Homo sapiens: one gene and its partner. Each later gene encodes a partner of the first gene's protein in a complex. Each region holds a gene or a part of one and is shown on either strand. Other genes may lie near its edges.

Region 1 (3,748 bases):
TGATCTGAACTGGCCACTTTTATCATGGAATGCCTTTTTTACTTGCAAGAATGATGACAAACTATCATTATTGCAAATGTGAATAGCTGGCAGACATTTTCTTGGAAATTAAAGAAACAAAACAGTCAATTCAAGTAAAAACTGGTAGCATGTTGCCAAGGAAATTATTTGAACTCAAGGAGGAAATTAGAATTTTGGAAAACTTGCACCACTCATAGCGAACAGTGTTCTAAAACTTAAGACTTTGCAGAGATTGGTGGTGATATTAACAAATGTGATTTTTAAAAATGCTTGTATAATAAAATGTGTCAACATGTGGAAGATCTGCGTAACGATGAACAAATATTTTCCAAATGACCAGTAACGCTACAAAACCAGGCATGGTAGAAGATCCATTCCAAGTATAAAGCAGACCTGCGGAGTTGGGCAAATTCATCAATATGATTTCAGATTGCATAGTGTAACTATTCTTTGCAAACTATCACTTATGAAGTTTCGGTATCAAAGAATATTCAACTACCTGAAAAACTATTCAAGTACTCCTTACTTCATTAAAATAACGTTAAGGGAATGAATTCAGGAGCAGAGATGAGAATCCAGCTGTTAAGACATTAAAAGATACCTGCAAAACCGTGAAACACCTTATCAAAATTGCAGTTGCTTTTTTGGCAGAAACTGGCAATCTAGTCCTAAAATTCAATATGGAAATGCAAGGGACTGAGAATACCCAAAAACATCTTCAGAAATAATAAAGTTAGAGGACTCATATGCCCCTATTTAAAAACCAGCTACAAAACTACAGTAATCAAGATCGTATGGTACTGGCAGGACAGACATACAGATCAATGGAATGAGTGAGTTCTTCTATTGACGGTCACTTCATCTCGGACAAGGGAATTCAATGAAGAAAGAACATTATTTTAACAAAAGAAGCTAGGGCAACTTGATATCCACATGCAAAAGTATAAAGTTCTATCCCTCCCTCACATCATATACAAATATTAACCACAAATAGATCACAGATCTAATGTAAGAGTTAACAGGATAAAATATCTAGAAGAAAATATAGTAGTAAATCTATATGACCTTGGATTAGGCAATGGCTTCTAAGATGTGACACCAAAAGCATAAGTGGCAGGAGAAAAATAGATATATCGGCCTTCAAATTAAAAACTTTCTGCTTTGAAGGACACCATCGAGAAGGTAAAAGGACAACCCACAGACAGGAGAAATTATTTGCAAATCCTATGATACCACTTCACACCCAATAGGATGGCTAAAATGAAAAAGGCAGTGTAACAATTGTTGACGAGAATGTGGAGAAAATTAAACCCTCATACATTGCTGATGGGAATATAAAATTGTGCAGCTGTTCTGGAAAAAATCTGACAGTTCTTCAAAATATTAAGCACAGAGTTAACCATAATGACCCAGCAATTCCACTCCTAGGAATGTACCCAAGAGAAATGAAAACATGTCTACATAAAAGCTTGTACAGGAATGTTCAAAACATTATTATTCATAGTAGCCAGAAAGTAGAGCTCCAAGTGGTGTCTCACACCTGTAATCCCAACACTGGGAGACTGAGACCAGAGGATTGCTTGAGGTCAAGAGTTCAAGACCAGCTTGGGCAACAAAGCAAGGTTCCCACCTCTACAAAAAAATAAAAAAACTAGCTGGGTGTGATGGCGCACACCTGCAGTCCTAGCTACTCGGGAAGCTGAGGCAGGAGGATCACTTGAGTCCAGGAGGTTGACACTGCAGTGAGCCATGATAGCTCCACTGCACTCCAGCCTGGGCAACAGAGCAAGACCCTGCCTCAGAAAAGTAAATAAATAAAAAATAATAGCCAAAAAAAAAAAGAAAGAAAAGAAACCACCCACATATCCAATTGACAAATGCATAGAAAAAATGTGGTATACTCACATGACAGAATATTAGTCAGCACTAAACAGGAAGAAGCGACATATGCTACAACATGAACGAACCTTGAAAACATTATACTAAGTAAAAGACGCCAGCCCCAGAAGACCACATATGTATGTTCTTATTTATATGAAATGTCCAGAGTAAGTAAATTCATAGAAACAGAAAGATTAGTGGTTGCCAGGGGCTGACAGGGAAGCAGGATGGAGAGTGACTGCTAATGAGTACAGAGTTTCTTTTTGGGGTGATGAAGTACAGAGAGATATAACCCATATGGACAGCAAAATAACATTTGGCACTGGAAAGCCATAATCAGAAATCTGAATTCTGATTATGCTCTTGTGCAGAACAATGAATGAGACTGAAAAACAGTAATTTCAAGTTTCAATACAAAGTGGGCACTTCAGGACTACCCCCACCCACAAGTATACAACATCAGAATATTAAGCACCTGAATATACAATTTCACATACTGGTAGATGTCATACATAGCAAATATTGTTTTGCCTTTCAATTTTTCAATAAAAAGTGTCAACAAATGATAGGTTAACTTAAAAAATAAACAGTAAGTCAGAATCTGCTGGGAACAACCAAATATTTAATGACATCTTTCCTCATGAAGACTCTAAATACTACCTAAACATTTTGACAAAGTAATAATTTGAGTACTTTTGCTGAATTGCCTTCTTCCAAACCACAAAGCTGTTTCATTTTCCCCCTATGATCTTTCACATGCCTGTGATCCCATCCCTCTTATTAACTGTATGTAAGAGGCTTATATATGACAACCAGCTTTTAATTATGGTCTAATGGTAAACTAGGTTACCAAAGCTCTCTGTACAGGTAAAATCCCAGTGAAAGATGTACCAGGCTGAAGACAGTTTACGTAACACTACCATTTTAAGTTGAGTTACTTCCTATCGCGGGACTACTCCGTTGTGGTAGAAATAACGGAATGTCAGGGAGCTGGTACTTTTGGCCATCACGGCAACAGTTAATACAAAGCACTCCCTGAAAGCCAGACTCCCAGAGTTATAGGTGACGTGTCCTTAAAAGCTTTAACATTGTAAATACCAGGAAAAGTACAGGGGACTGGCAGGGAGAATTGTATAGACTACCTGAGAATTATATTTTACCTATTGGTAGTTCTGACAACACTCAAAAAAAAAGAAAAAAAGAAAACGGAAAGCCAAGTAGTGGGCTGGGTGCAGTGACTCATGCCTGTAATCCCAGCACTTAGGGAGGCCGAGGCAGGTGGATCACGAGGTCAGGAGTTCAAGACCATCCTGGCCAAGATGGTGAAACCCAGTCTCTACTAAAAATACAAAAATTAGCTGGGCGGGGTGGCAGGCGCCTGTTATCCCAGCTACTTGGGAGGCTGAGGCAGGAGAATCGGTTGAACCTGGGCAGCAGAGGTTGCAGTGAGCCCAGATCCCGCCACTGCACTCCAGCCTGGGTGATAGAGTGAGACTCTGTCACAAAAAAAAAAAAAAAAAAAAAAGAAAGCCAACTAGTTAAACAAACATAGCACTTTTTTGTTTTATCTGAAGACAACTTTAAAAATAAAGTTTGTGGCATGACAAATCACAATGACAAGTATCCTACTAGTCAAACTGGCTTAATGTATTTAATCAAGAGAACATTCTAAGAAAGGTGTGGAGGCTTTTTATGTGGCTCTACCCCCAGAATATAGGACAAACAGCTCAGCATCACAAAATACCACAATCTAGAAACACAGGTACTCAAATTTCTCTGGTACAGCACCACCATTTGCAAGCAAACATGCCAGTAAGCTCCCAGAAGTGAGCATGCTGAGTAATTC
Region 2 (3,748 bases), on another chromosome or scaffold:
AGTATGCAAAGGTGATACAGCCTTTAGTTTTTTTAAAAAGCATAGATCAATTTCCATTCGAAAAATCTCACTTGTACATCCAAAACTTCCTTTTTGCACTGTGGTCTAAAATGTATTACCAACTTGGTTTCTGATTATAGCAAAGCAATTAAATTTGCAAGCGTGACATGGACATTGTGAAAACGCAACAGAATACCAAGAAAACAGTGCTTTACTAAACCTCCAAGGGAGGAGCCCTGAAGTGGTGACTACCTTTTCACTGAGGGAGCAATTTAAGAACGTTCGTACTATAGATTACAGATAGGATGCATGAAGAGATTAAAGTTGGCAGGAGAATGGAAAATTTGAATATCCAAGTTTGCATTTTTTCATCTGCATCATATGGTGACAGACTAACACACTCCACGAAAACACAAAGCTTCCTTACGGAGAGGATGCAAAAGGGGCACCACAACAGGCCCGAGGCAATGATTTCTCTACCCCACTCTATCCTACCGTGGCCCCAGCGACATCACACCATTGCTGGACAGCTCCACCACAGCTAGGCATAACCGCACCGACAGGAGCGAGCAAAGACACCTCGGCTAGGAGTCCCAGCGCGAGGCACCCCACACCTAAGCCTATGGTCCTCATCTTGCTGGAAAGAAAACTGAGGCGCTGAGGGGGAAGCAGTGACCAATGCCTGAGAAGGCCAAGAGTGTTAAGACGAGGTCGATCTTGGACTTCTCTTTCCCCACCTCCCCCAACTACTCCAGTCCTGGAAGAAGCCACAAGTTTGGAAGAGAAGTTGTGGAAACCAGACGGGGGTGGGGTGCGGTGCGGTGCGGTGGGGGACCTGAGAGAGTTTTAAAAGCACTGGTATTTGTCCCACACAAGGTCGCCCGCTCCAAGTCACTGTTCCCCGCTCCCCGGGTAGGCTTATAGCCAAAGAGGCTTCTAGGCTTCGAGATCAGCCCACCGCGCCCCCTCAGCCCTTCTCCGCGGGCCGCAGCCCCATCCCGGCCTCTGGGTCCCGGCCGGGGATCGGAACCCAGCCGGCTTCTCCGACAGCGTTTCCGACGCCCGGCACCTCTCGCAGCCCCGTCCCCCAGGCTCCCCCGTCTCCACCCGCCACCCCCCGGCGCTCCCGTCAACGTCCCCTTCCTCCCTCAGGACGCCCCTTGGGGCGCCTCTCGCGCCGGGTCCCGCCGGGTGCTCGGCACGCTGTTCCTTTCCTCTCCCCTCCCGCGGCCCTTCTTCTGTGGGGCCCACCTGGCGCGGCCCCCGCCCCCGGCCAGTCTCCTCAGTGAGCGGCCGCCTCCCAAGTCCTCCCGGCCCCGCCCCGCTCCCGGACGGATACAGTTTGAAGCCCCTCAGGATCTCCCTGGCCCGCTCGTCCTTGGCTGACATGATGCGGCGGTCGCCGCCCGCGGCTTTCTCACTCTGGTCGGCGGAGCCTCGCAGACGGTGCCCAGGAGCCGAGGATGGAGCCGCAGCCCGGCTTGGAGACCTCGGGCTAGCAGCCGCAGCGGCCAGACCAGGACCGGCCTCTCTCTCCCCTCAGCTCCCGCTTCTGATCCCTTCTCCTTCCCCCTAGCCTCGCAGTGCCCTCCTGGAACCAATGGAAAGCCAGCCTTGGCGATTGGCATCTCAACCAGCCAGTAGGAGCGCGCAGCGGCTTCGCAGGGGGACTGTTAACGTCAATGGGAAGGGCCCTCCCCGGGAAGTCCCATAGGACACAATATTCATCTGGTGTTGTTGCCTAGAGTTTGTCCCAGCGGAGGGTTGGCTTCGGATCTGCAGAGGCTTTAGGGACCTGCTCCAGCCACTGAGCACACTAGCCGTCTGAGACGGCAGCTGAGTTGCACTGTGCGACGCGACAGAGACTACATTTCCCAGCATTCCAGCGGCGCACTCGGGGGACCACAGATCCCAGCGCACCACAAAGAGGCCCGGGGACTACAAATCCCAGCATCCCCTGCACTCGGTTCCTCTGTAACTTAGACTCCAGTGTGCCGCGCAGTGTGCGCAAATTCACAAACCCGCCCGCTGAGTTGGTCGTTTCGGAATCCCGAGACTTGAAACCCAACGGGAAGACCCTTCTCACCCTCAAAAGAAGATGACAGCCCGCAGAGAGTTAACTTCTGTTTACATGGAACTCAGACATCTGCAAATCATGGTAAGGCTGCAAACAACAAACAAAAACACTGATTAAACCGTGAAAGAGAACAAAATGACTTCTTCAAATCGTGCTTGTTTGTTGGTCTGAGGCGCCTTTTACATGTATTTCAGGGTTTTTTGCTGTATTCCTGGTTTGCACCGGGAGAGCTATGGATTGTATACTCAGAATATCAAAACATAAAGGGACTTTGCTAATCTATCCCCTGTTGTTACGTATGAGGAAATTGAGGCCCAGAGAGGCGAAGGGATTGGCCACAGATCACAGCAAGTTCGGGCAGAGTTAGAATTCAGCCCTAAGTCGGCTGACTTGCAGTCTGGACTCTTTGCACCACACTAAGGAGGTGATATTTTTAGCAGCATGGCAATGTGAATTATTCTCCTTGAACGGTTTTCCTATCCACTGTTGAAACACCCAGAATTAGGTAGCATTTATTTGGTGGATTTCTTGCGAGTGAGGGAGTGTGATATTTATTTATTTTCAGCCTAGGTAGGATTTGGTGTTTTGTTTTTTGCCACTCAAGGTGACATTTAATGTGATTTCAGGAAGTAGGTAAAATTACAGTGTGAGCCACGGTTTCCTTGGAAACCTCCTCTGTCCTTCTCTTGGCCTTCCTTCCTCTGCCTGTCCCCACTTTCACCCATCTGGGAACTCACCCAATTTTTTCTTCCATGTAATTCAACAAATATCTTTTCAGCCTGTTATTTGTCAGGCACTGAGTGGGTAAAAGGTGAAGGACATGGTCACTGCCACCAGGAAGATGAACATATATTTAGGGAAATAAGGAGACTCCACTGAGATTCAAGATGGAGTGTGATAAAATGGCATAAAGAAATGACATCAGAATGCTAAGGAGGCCCTGATGAAAAGGTTCATTGCAGCTGGCAAAACTTTAATGGACAAGGTGGCATTTGAACTTGAATTTTTTTTCCATGTTAAAAAAGTTTTTTTTTTGTTAATGAGGTGTAACATACAGTATGGGAACAATTTTCACATAGGTATACACCCCTGTCGCCACTACCCAAATCAAGATATAGAACATTTCTAGCACACTTAGTGCTCCCTCCCAATCAGTATTACATCCTTACATATTGAGATAATCACTCTTCTGACTGTATCACCATAGATCAGTTTTCTCTGTTCTTGAATTCCAGTTAAATATAATAATACAGTATGTACAGTATGTGTCTGGCTTTTTTACTTTATCAGTATTTTTGTGAAATTCATCCATGTTGTGTGTAGCCTTTTAATTGCTGAATAGTATTCTGTTGTATGTTTATACCACAATTTATCTTTTCCACTGTTGGCGGGCATTTGGGTTGTTATTTTTTGGACTATTATTAGCAAAGCCGTAGTGAGCATTCTTACATGTTTCTTTTTGTAGACACTTGCACACATTTCTAGGAGAGGAATTGCTAGTGTGTAGGGAGGGTATGCACATGATCAGTGATAGTAGACATTGCCAGTTTTTCAAAATGATTGTACCAATTTACGCCTTTGCCAGCAATATGAGAGAGTTCTAGGTGCCTCTTATCCTTGTCAACACAAGAGTTTTGTTGTCAGTCTTCTTAATTGTAGCCGTTCTGGCTG

The links.
Region 2: the proteins of RHEB (region 1) and PDE6D are in contact, whole or in part, in a crystal structure (PDB 3T5G), measured with the Homo sapiens proteins. Residues at the interface, in NP_005605.1 of Homo sapiens: Pro2, Gln3, Ser4, Gln57, Asp77, Gln176, Gly177, Lys178, Ser179, Ser180, Cys181; in NP_002592.1 of Homo sapiens: Ile53, Leu54, Cys56, Val59, Val80, Gln85, Cys86, Leu87, Glu88, Glu89, Trp90, Ile109, Glu110, Ala111, Ala112, Pro113, Gln116, Met117, Met118, Leu123, Tyr149.

What each region holds. Positions count from the first base shown.
Region 1 is NC_000007.14:151,513,218-151,516,965, forward strand, and holds part of RHEB (GTP-binding protein Rheb), read right to left. Parts: intron 1-3,748. UniProt on the Homo sapiens protein: Small GTPase that acts as an allosteric activator of the canonical mTORC1 complex, an evolutionarily conserved central nutrient sensor that stimulates anabolic reactions and macromolecule biosynthesis to promote cellular biomass generation and growth.
Region 2 is NC_000002.12:231,779,726-231,783,473, forward strand, and holds the start of PDE6D (retinal rod rhodopsin-sensitive cGMP 3',5'-cyclic phosphodiesterase subunit delta), read right to left. Parts: upstream 1,558-3,748; 5' UTR 1,390-1,557; coding exon 1,340-1,389; intron 1-1,339. UniProt on the Homo sapiens protein: Promotes the release of prenylated target proteins from cellular membranes. Modulates the activity of prenylated or palmitoylated Ras family members by regulating their subcellular location.